Regions from separate parts of the Homo sapiens genome. Here region 1 is linked to region 2. The links come from fine-mapping of genetic effects on gene expression. A gene starts in region 2. The other region holds a variant in brackets. All regions are shown on one strand. Distances are from middle to middle.

Region 1 (5,374 bases), 22 kb before region 2:
GGGCGGATTGGAAGTTGCTTTGTTTTGCTTCGAGATGGATGCAGGGATGTATTTGAAACATTATCTGGACAGTAAGAGCAGGCTGGAGGAGGGGGTTCAGGGGCTGTAGAGTGGTGGGGGTATCAGAGCTGAAAGGATCTGTAGCCTGTAAACCCCAGGTTTACTAGTGTGCAGGTAGTAAGATACAGCAATAGAATCCGGGAAACTGCTCTAATTACAAAAGTCATGCTTTTCGGTAACTTGATCTCTGTGCCTGTTTTACTATACAATGAGACTACTACCTCCCTCATAGGGTTGTTGGAATAAGTGAGTGTGAGTGTATCCATAAAAAGAGTAGATTCTAGTTCTAATACTGGTGATGAAGTTAGGGCCATTAGGGCCTTTTCAAGAGTTGGTGAGAGTGGGAGGAAAAAGCAGTAAATATGCAGGGAGCTAAGAAACATTGGCATATTTGGTCATATGTGATACATTCATTGGTATTACACAACATATTGAGACACCATCTTAGGTGCCCACACAGGATATCTAGCACTAAATTAAGTGGGCTTTATTTATCCCAGCCCAACTACATAACAAGTACTATTGGCCAGCAGTCCCAGAGTTCTCAGGATGTGGGAGCTTGGTCACAACTTTCACAACTTTTTCGGTGCTTAAAGCAAGGTTTTTTTTTTTTTGTTTTTTTTTTTTTTTCCAGACAGAATCTCGCTCTGTGGCCCAGGCTGGAGTGCAGTGGTGCAATCCCGGCTCACTGCAACCTCCGCCTCCCAGGTTCAAGTCATTCTTCTGCCTCAGCCTGCAGCTGGGACTACAGGCGCGTGCCACCACACCTGGCTAATTTTTGTATTTTTATTTTACTTTTTTGAGAGAGAGTCTCACTCTGTCGCCCAGGCTGGAGTGCCATGGCACGATCTTGGCTCACTGCAACCTCTGCCTCCTAGGTTCAAAAGATTCTCCTGCCTCAGCCTCCTGAGTAGCTGGGATTGCAGGCGCCCACCACTATGCCTAGCTTATTTTTTGTATTTTCAGTAGAGACGGGGTTTCACCATACTGGCCAGGCTGGTCTCGAGCTCCTAACCTCATGATTCACCTGTCTCGGCCTCCCAAAGTGCTGGGATTACAGGCGTGAGCCACCGTGCACGGCCATCAATTTTTGTATTTTTAGTAGAGATGGGGTTTCACCATGTTGGCCAGGCTGGTCTTGAACTCCTGACGTCAAGTAGTCTGCCTGCCTCGCCCTCCCAAAATGCTGGGATTACAGGCGTGAGCCACCGCACCCAGCCTTAAAGCAAGTTACTTAATTCTCAAAAAAGGTATCTTCAGAGTTATCTAGTCCAATCCCTTCACTAACAGTTGAAGAAGCACCCTGGCCAACACTGGTTGATGGTAGGCAAAGGGCTGAAGTCCAGGTTTCATGACCACATTCTACTCCATAGTACTACAGCTCTCCTGCATAAATCAATCTTGCACCCCTTAACCGGTTATGATTTCCACAAGGTAACAAATACACATATGTATACACATTGCCAACTGCAAGCCCCTCTTCCACAGACTCAGGCAGGAGTGTAGGTCCTTTCAAGAGGCTTCCATTTTTCTTCCATAGGGAGCTTAGCTGTTTTGTTAACACATAACCAAAGCCTTGCTCTCACATATTTAGGCAATGCAATCCCCATGACAGAATGTGTATGTAGAAGTCCTCATAAACCAGGATTTCACTGGAGACATCATGAAACTGTACCCTTCCATGACTGGAGAATTGCACAAATGGGGCATCATCACACAAGCACTTGTTCATCACACACACACTCTGGTATAAATCCTCAGTACTGTTCTTGGACATCTCCCCAAATACCTTTTCCGCATGCTCGCTCACATCAGTAGCTCCACTGCCTCTGATCCTTTTACATGAATTTATTTCTATACAATGTTCTAAAAACACCCCTTGGTTTGTACATAAGTTTTTTTCTTTTTTTCTTCATTTTTAAATTACTTTATAACAACTGGTTTCCTGATTTTTTTTTTAATTTCCTTTCCTCTGAAATCTGCCATGATTTAAAAAAAAAAAAAAAAGACAAAAAGAAAAATGCTGTGGCTAGAGGACAGGGGTGGAGAGAGGGAAAAAAAGGACAAAAATAAACAAAACATCAAATATGAAAATTCTCAGAGATAATGCATTTATAAACACAGAAATGGTTACAACAAAGATGGCCGTGATGAGTG[A/G]GTATAATATATTTATATATATATATTTATATATAAATCCGTGTCCGGCATCTGACTGTGGCACCTAGGGAGCTAAGTCCAGTCCTTGCGTTTGCCTTGAACTCTCCCTTCTCCGCAACACCCCTGTTTTGGAGTTTCACAGATAACACAAAGCCTCCCACAGCTCCTTGGGGGTGGGTTGGGGAGACTGAGAGTATAGGGTCTTTGTAGGCAGAGAAGGAGAGAGGCTTCAAGGAAATCCGTAAAACCATAACACACACTTCTAAGCCACCTGTGACCAACTTGGGAATTTCTGGCCCCTTGGGGACCACATCTCAGCCCTTGCCCCCTTCAAATAAAAGGAGGTCTAGCCCCTACCCCAAATCTCCTTCTACCAGCAGTCAATAGGAAGCAAAGTGAGACGATGTAGGGGAAGAAATGGCTCTCAGGGACTGAGGCATTTGAGAAACCTCTGTTCTTTTGCAGGCAAGAATAGAACAAGAGGCTGGTTGCATTTGGGGCTCCCTTTTCTCTGTTATCTGGGAGGGCCAGCCTCTAGTCTTACATCAGCCCAAACTTTGAGGATAAGGAGGGTAAGGATAGGGTAAGTGGCCACACTGGACAAGGTTCTATGAGGTCATAGCAAATCCTTCCCTTGAGCACCGACCCCCAGTTTTAGAAGCTTTGCTTGGGAGGGGAGGCTGCTGGATGACACCATCAGCTCAGTATTCCTTTGCAATCAGGAGGGCTGATGTTCCTTTTGAAGAAGAGTTCAGAAAAAGGATGGTATCCTGTGAAGGAAAGCCGTGACAGAGGCCCAAGGAGATGGAGCCAAGGCCTGTCAAGGAAGAAAAGGACTTTTCCCACCAAGAGTTGGAGAAAGAAGACACCAGGACTACTTCTTCCTCTTCCCAGTGGGTGGCAGCACGGATCTCTAAGAGCTGGCCAGGTGCTCCACCTGGATGGTGCTGGTGGTGACAGTGAGGCAGATGTCCTTATGATGCTCCGCCGTCTTATACGGGGTCAGGTCAAAGGAACACTGGGGTGGAGGGTTGGGATTGCTGTCCCCACCACCCCCACCCTGGGGGGCTGCCCCAGGAGACTGGAAGTGTGGTGGTGGCTGTTGCTGCTGCTGCTGCTGCTGCTGCTGCTGCTGCTGCTGCTGCTGTGATGCCTGGGAGGCCTGGGCCTGGGCCTGGGCTTGAGCCTGAGCCTGAGCCTGGGCTTGAGCTTGAGCCTGGGCCTGGGCCACTGCTGCCGCTGCTGCTGCTGCCTGCACCTGTTGCTGAAGATCAGGCGGGTTGTGTTTGCGCATATGTTTCATAAGGTATGTTTCCTGAGGGAGATGGTAAAAAGAAGTTGAGGGATAAAGAGGAAGGAAAAGAGATTACTTGTAACTAGCACCCCAGGCTCTGATTCTGCTGTAAGCAGAGTAAGCTTTATACTGGTTTTCTGGAGCCAAGACTGAGCAAAACTCAAGTAGCACTTTCAGTGGCTCACTACTGAGAAAAAAAAGAGAGGAACCTTTAGAAGTCACTCAACATTCAACTGGCAAAGGAATGAGCTGCTATTTTTTTCAAAGACCCCTGAATGAAACAACTTTACAACCTTTTCTGGAGTCTCATGGAAAATATCTAACTGGGCCAGGTGCGGTGGCTCACACCTGTAATCCCAGTACTTTGGGAGGCTGAGGTAGGTGGATCACTTGAGGTCAGGAGTTTGAGACCAGCCTGGGCAACATGGTGAAACCCCATGTCTACTAAAAATACAAAAAGTTGCTGGGCATGGCAACATGCACCTGTAATCCCACCTACTTGGGAGGCTGAGGCAGGAGAATCGCTTGAACCCAGGAGGTGGAGGTTACAGTGAGCCGAGCCGAGATCACACCACTGCACTCCAGCCTGGGTGACAGGGCGAGACTGTGTCTCAAAAAGAAAAAAAAAAAAAAAAGAAGAAGAAAATGCCTAACTGAAATCCAGCTCCCCTCAAAATTTCAAGTGGCTTTATTTTGCCTTATGTTTAAGTAAAATGAAGAATTACAGCTTATGCGTCTCTATAGGATTAGGAGATCAGGCATCCCCTAAATTCCTCAGAATGGGTCTAATTAATTTCTGAATATTTACCTGTTCTGCTAAGTTGGAGCTAGGGAGGCAGGGTATTCACTGCAACAGATCTCTACCCAGAAAATGGGGTGAAGTGGACTGTACTCTTAGAGGACTATGAGGAAGGAGAGAAGAAACGGAGCACTCACTGATGTGTATGCCCGACTGCAGATAGTGCAGGTGTACACCTTGGCATGCTTCACTGTGTGCGTAGACAGGTGCACCTCTAGTGAGGCTGCATCCGTGTACGCCCGATGACAGTTGTGGCACTTGAAGGGTTTATCTTTGTTGTGTTGCCGTCTGTGGGACTGAGAAAATTGGGAGAAACCAGAATGAATACATTGTACTCTTTCCTCCTGCCCCCTTGACCTCGATGGAAAGCAAAAAGGTAGGTGTCAGGCCTCCCAGCTTCTCCCTCTATCTGAAGAAAGTAGAAATTGTTTCAAATGAAACTTGAGAAGCTACAGGCTAAGGGTGGAAGCATACCTCATGTAGCACATACCAGGATCCCAAGACAGCTTATGCCCGTCTCACCAGTCCAGTGGTTCTTAAAATGAGGCATGGGGATCTTTAGGGAACACTAAGACCTTCACAGGGGGCCCACAGGGTCAAAACTCTTTTTTTTTTTTTTTCCCAGATGAAGTCTCTCACTCTGTCGCTCAGGTTGGAGTGCAGCGGCACAATCTCGGCTCATTGCAACCTCCGCTTCCCGGGTTCAAGCGATTCTCCTGCCTCAGCCTGCAAGTAGCTGGGACTACAGGCACATGCCACCAGGCCTGGCTAATTTTTTTTGTATTTTTAGTAGAGACAAGGTTTCACCGTGTTGGCCAGGCTGGTTTCCAACTCCTGAGCTCAGGTGATCCGCCCGCCTCCGCCGCCCAAAGTGCTGAGATTACAGGTGTGAGCCACCGCGCCCAGCCAAATCTTTTCAAAATAATAAGACAATGTTTGCCTTTGTCTCTCTTGAACCTGGGAAGTTGCAGTAAGCTGAAATCACACCACTGCACTCCAGCCTAGGTGACCCAGCGAGCCTCTGTCTCAAACACGCACACGCGCGCGCGCACACACACACACAC
Region 2 (5,329 bases):
CGGTTTAGAAATCATCTACAAGTAGCATCAACAAGAAAAAGATGGAAAAAAACAATCAACTTGAATTCAACTACAGAAAGAACTTAAGACGCTATTGAGAAACCATTCCAAAACACACAACTGCAGAAAGGTTACCTTAGCTCAAGACTTGAAATGAAGAAACACAGAGAAAGTTTTTTTTGTTTCTCCAAAAGGAAACAAAATCTCTTTCTCTCAGGGTCTAAAGACATTCAAGAAGGGCCATCCCAGTAGGATGTGACGCTTTCCCGCCAGTATCCATAAACTCTTCCAAGTACAAGTAACTCAGAACAAATGCACCCCAATGTTACTGGGAAACATCATCACACCATACACAAACAAACTAAACAGGACTGCTACCACCACACAGCTGGCAACCTGGGCCAACAGCTTCTAGCCTGGGCACCACCGGACCACTTTACCCTGCATCCTGTGGGAGGGACGGCACGGTGGTTCTCCTTGCCCTGTCTGTTCCACTATAAATGATGGATCTGGGGAATGTGAGGCCAAAATAAATAAATAAGACTGGAGAAGAAGAGATATGTACCCAATATTTAATCAACAACTTGGCTCAGAAACCCACAGGGCATTTTATAAACCAACCTCTGGGATCATAAGTTCTGAACTCAAACTCTTTAGGTCCACTCACTGTCATTTTCAGGCTACCCGAAACTCTTCCAGACCTACTTCTGGAGTCTACTCCGTACAGTTTTATCCACTTCACTCCAGACTAACCATGAAGCAGTTTTTTTTTTCCCCTGAAAATTTCATCTTGCCATACCAAATTCAAATAACCCTGTGTCACAGATTCTAATCACTCCACAGACCCACTTCTAACACTCCACTGGACTATTTGGGATAGGAACTCCATTCTAAACTCAGCTCTGCTTGTTCCAGACACAGGAAAGCAATTCCATAAGGACTATATTGGCATTTAGGGTCTTTGTGTCCCAAAGCAGAATAAAGATTTCCCCTTTGGACACAAGGCAACACTATTCAGTGGCTTCACCTGAGCATTTCATATTTCATTCCTGATGAGCATTAGTAGGAATGGAAAGTGATGGGGGATAGCGCCAACTTTTTACACAAAAACTTCCTGACCCTCAAGAGATAATAGAAAAAAACTGATTTCTCTCCACAACAATCTCAGCATTACAATTGCTATTACTTTAAGTATTCTATCACATTGTGAAACACACACACGCCCCATTTGGTTGTGACCCCTTCTCCCCCAAAACCAGAAAAGCCATTAACCCAAAAATCATCTTACCCTCTCTCTCTCTTCCTCCTGCCGTCTTATTCCTTCTCCTTTCCAGGGCTCCTGAACTTTCTGTAAACAAATTGTCTAGGTTACAGGGGCCAGGCAGGGTGCAGCCACCAGAGAACTGTGGAGAACCTCAGGAATTATTTGTCAGCAGTCAGTCTGGAAGGCAGGCAGACCCCCCAGCCAGCAATCCAAAGACGGGTGGATATAATAACAGCAGTCTAGTGCTACCCTCTACGTGGATACAAGAGAAATAAATCCAATTCCCAGAAACTAAGACGAATTCTATCACCAGCGTTTGGGTTTCACTCCTAGGCTCAGAGACTGGTCCTTGTTCGTTCCCAGGCCACAGGTAACCAGGGGTCAGAGAACATTAGAGATGGAGGAGGAGGAGGGTCTGTGCCCCTGAGGAGTGGCTTCAGAAGGCAAAGCTGAGGGCTGGGGGATGCACAAGACCTTGTGGCAGGCACAGTGCCAGTTCAGGCCCAGCCACTTCCTCTAGCCTTCCCCCCACTTCTTCGAGGACTTCGCCCCCTGCCTACCCGAGGCCTTGTGCCAAGAAGTACCTCCCTCAGCCTGCACCGTGGTCTATCTACTGGAGACCCCAGCTGTCCCCTCAAAACCTTCGCTCCCCTGAGACAGTTCCTGGGAGCCTTCTCCTGATGTCGTCCCCTACCCCTTTCTCAAAGACCCTTCCTTGGGACGTCCCTCCTTCCCCTCCAGGGAGCTGAACTCTGCCACCCACCAGACAGGCACCCGCCCCCTAAACCCCCCCATTCCTTCCCATCGCCCGCTCCTCCACAACCACTTCCGGTTCCGGGACGGACACACACACAGTCACATCGTGGACCCCCCCTTCCCCGCCTGCCCAAGGAAAAGGGGAGGGGGGAGGAGCAAGCAGCTTGGCGCGCGCCGGCTGTAGCGGCGCGAGACTCACCGGGCGGCGACGGCTGCGGCGGCGCCAGAGCCTGAGCCAGGGCGCGGGAGGGGCGGCGTTTGCTGGGAAAGGAGGGAGCCGAGGAGGGTGGGAGGACCAGGAAGGGGCGAGGGAGGGGAAAAAGCGCAAGGCGCAGCGCGCGGGCACGCACTTCTGGAGCGAGACAGACCCACACACTCACACGCACGGAACGCGCGCGAGACACCCGCAGGGCGGGGGCGCGAGGTAGTGGGTGGCCCCCCCTCCTTGCTGCCCTCCCCTTGCACTCACCCGGAAGTGGTGCTGCAGCTCGTGCTCCCGCGAACCCCAGTTCCTCCACGCCCCCCTCCCTCCCCCCAACAGGCTCAGAGAAGAGCTCTGCGGAGAGAAGGCGGGAGCGCCGGAAACGAAAAGGGGGGAGGGAGGGAAATAGCAATGTAGGGGGGGCGCTAATGGAGAAAGAGGGGCGTGCAGAAGCCGAGTCACTTCCGGGAGTGGCTGGAACACTTCCGGCGCCGCTAGCGCTGCGAGATATTCAGGGCAGAAGTTACGATAACTCGGGGCGGAAATAGCTTCTGCCCAGCGACTGGGAAGAGGGGATGTGACGCTATAGCGGAAGTGAAGGCGGGTTCCGCTAGGGGCAAAAGCTGAAACCGGAGGACTCCGGCCCTGAGCTTCCGGAAGGGACATCTGGGGAAGGTGGGGGGGTGGAAACGCGACAGGTTCATGAATTATCCATCAAGGTAGGAGAGGAGGTGTGGGTTCTTCAGATGCTGGGACCCCGTTTCTCTTCCCTCTGGATGTTGAATAAGCTGATGTAGGAAATTACCATTATTTTTTCTGATACCCCCAAGAATGTCTCAATGCTTTGAATATGCGGGAAAGGACTAGGACGTATCCTTGTTTTTCGGAGGTCCCTACTTAGGTCCAGTTAGAAACTCTCCCAGCCATCAAAATCTGTCTCTCTGACACATCCCTTACTTTACTTTGGTCTTTTCTTGTTGCCCATACCCACATCTCTATCCCCTTACCCTGTTTTACTTAAATATAGCACTTATTACTGCCTGATTTATTGTTTGCTGTCCACCTCTCCCAACTAAAATATTGGCTACAGGACAGCGAGGACTGAATTGTTCGTTGCTGTATCCTCATATCCTGGCAGTTAAGTGGTCTGTAAACTCTTGTTGTATAAATGAACTATAGTTCATTATGAACACCTAAATATGAACCCTTTTAGGAAGCCTTGCCTGATTGCTCCAACCTGTAATGGTCCCTCTGAATTCCCATAGTATTTAATACGTACCTTTTATTGATATTTTAACTATTTCATACATGTGATTCCCCAGCAAGATTGTCAGTTCCTCATGGAAGGAAATACGTTGCTTTGCTGAGCATATAGTAAATGCTGAATATGTTGTTTGAACAAGTGAATGCTGTTACAAGCGTGCACCCCGACCTGGCCAGAATCCCCCTGGGCTCAGCTCTAAGCAGAACTGAGGTCTCTCCTACTAATGGTAAGAGCCTCTTGCTGAGAAAAATAACCTTTTTTTTTTTTTTTTAAAGACAGAGTGTCACCCTGTTGCCCAGGCTGGAGTGCATTGGCGCCATCTTGGCTCACTGCAACCTCTGCCTCCTGGGTTCAAGCGATTCTCCTGCCTCAGCCTCCCTAGCAGCTGGGATGACAGTCGCCCGCCACCACACCGGGCTAATTTTTTGTATCTTTAGTGGAGTCGGGGTTTCACCATGTTGGCCAGGCTGGTCTCGAACTCCTGACCTCAACTGATCCACCTGTCTCAGCCTCCCAAAGTGCTGGGATTACAGGCGTGAGCCACCACGCCCAGCAAAAAATAACTTTAACAGAAATAATTATAATGCTCATTTTACAGATAATGAAAATAAGCCTGTAAAGGATTAAGTGATTTTTTCCCCCAAGGTCAAAGCAAGAAAGTAACAAAGTACGCCTTTAAATATTTAAATAGATGATGCATTTCATTGTAATTGTAGTTTGTATCTTTTTTAAAGTGTCTGTTCCCTTTATCACATTTTTGGGCTCAGCACTCAGTCTCTGTTGACTGAGTAGCAACAGTTGGCAGAGTAAGGATTTTAAGGGCTCAGATGTGACCAGACCTATTGCTGTGTGGGTTAGAGATTGCTGATTCAAGAAACCTTGACATCAGGGGCTGGTATTGAAAGGTGGGAACAGGAAATAGTAATAATAGCTATACGTTCTGGTTCTCCTCCTGCTCTTTTCCTATTTATGTTAACTGGGCACTTCCTGGGTCTCCGTGTCTCCGTCAGCCCTATTCCTGCCCTTGCTATAAGAAGGAAGTTTCCCAGCTACTTGGGAGGTTGAGGCAGGAGAATCACTTGAACCTGGGAGGCGAAGGTTGTGGTGAGCCAAGATTGCGCCATTGCACTCCAGCCTGGGCAACAAGAACTAAACTCCATCTCAAAAAAAAAAAAAAGAAGTTTCAAGTGCTTTGAACTCCTTAGGGAAAAGCTTTAGAACAATAAATGTGGGGCGTAGGGGGAGGAGGGCTGTTAATTTTAGCCTGGGGTTCTCCAGCTGGCATACTGTTTCCATCTTGAATCACTTCCACACCCTAAGCTGTGCCTGGGAGATCCCTCCCTCCTCCTGGGGGCTTCCCCATTCCCTGGTTTGGTCTAAGCCGCAGTGGCAAGCATTCCAGAAAAATGCTAAGAGAAGCCTGGCTGAGTCATTTGATGCACAGCTCAGGAGGCAAAGAAAGGATGGTGATGAGACGCTGGTTCCAGTGGTGGCTGTGATGTGTGACCTCGAAGAACCTTCCAGTTCCCAAAAGGACAGCATGGCCATTGTTTTTTTCTTGGCTAGTGACTCTGCTGCAGCTTTCTGAGGACCTCTCAAAGCCCCACAGTCTCTGTTTCAACTACAGGAGAGAAAAGTTAGGGCTTGCTCCCCAGGGCCTTACGACTCTTCATGGCTAACGTGACAGTGCAGTATCATTTGGGAGAATTTTTTTAGTACAGTTCAGAGTCTGGAACAGTCTCCTTCCTCCTCTGTCTTTCCTGCCTTCTGACTTTCCATGGGGAAAGGAGGACATTTAGGAAGAGGGAACAGGTGAGGATTTCCAGTACCTTGCTGGTGTATT

The links. PIP is the estimated chance that this variant, and not a neighbour inherited with it, causes the effect.
Region 1: its variant is fine-mapped to the expression of ZNF384 in whole blood (INTERVAL, PIP above 0.99).

What each region holds. Positions count from the first base shown.
Region 1 is chr12:6,664,584-6,669,957 of GRCh38, forward strand. It overlaps ZNF384 (zinc finger protein 384), which reads right to left. Exons shown (of 12, transcript NM_001385745.1): 11 at 4,448-4,606; 12 at 1,894-3,532. The coding sequence ends at 3,131. Among named protein-coding and RNA genes, the nearest start is that of ING4, 4.2 kb to the left of the region's middle. The variant A/G (reference allele first, on the strand shown) is at 2,218.
Region 2 is chr12:6,686,879-6,692,207 of GRCh38, forward strand. It overlaps ZNF384 (zinc finger protein 384), which reads right to left and starts at 2,497. Exons shown (of 12, transcript NM_001385745.1): 1 at 2,220-2,497; 2 at 1,289-1,348. It also overlaps a transcript of PIANP not described here. RefSeq lists silencers at 2,346-2,455, 2,536-2,615 and an enhancer at 2,349-2,975.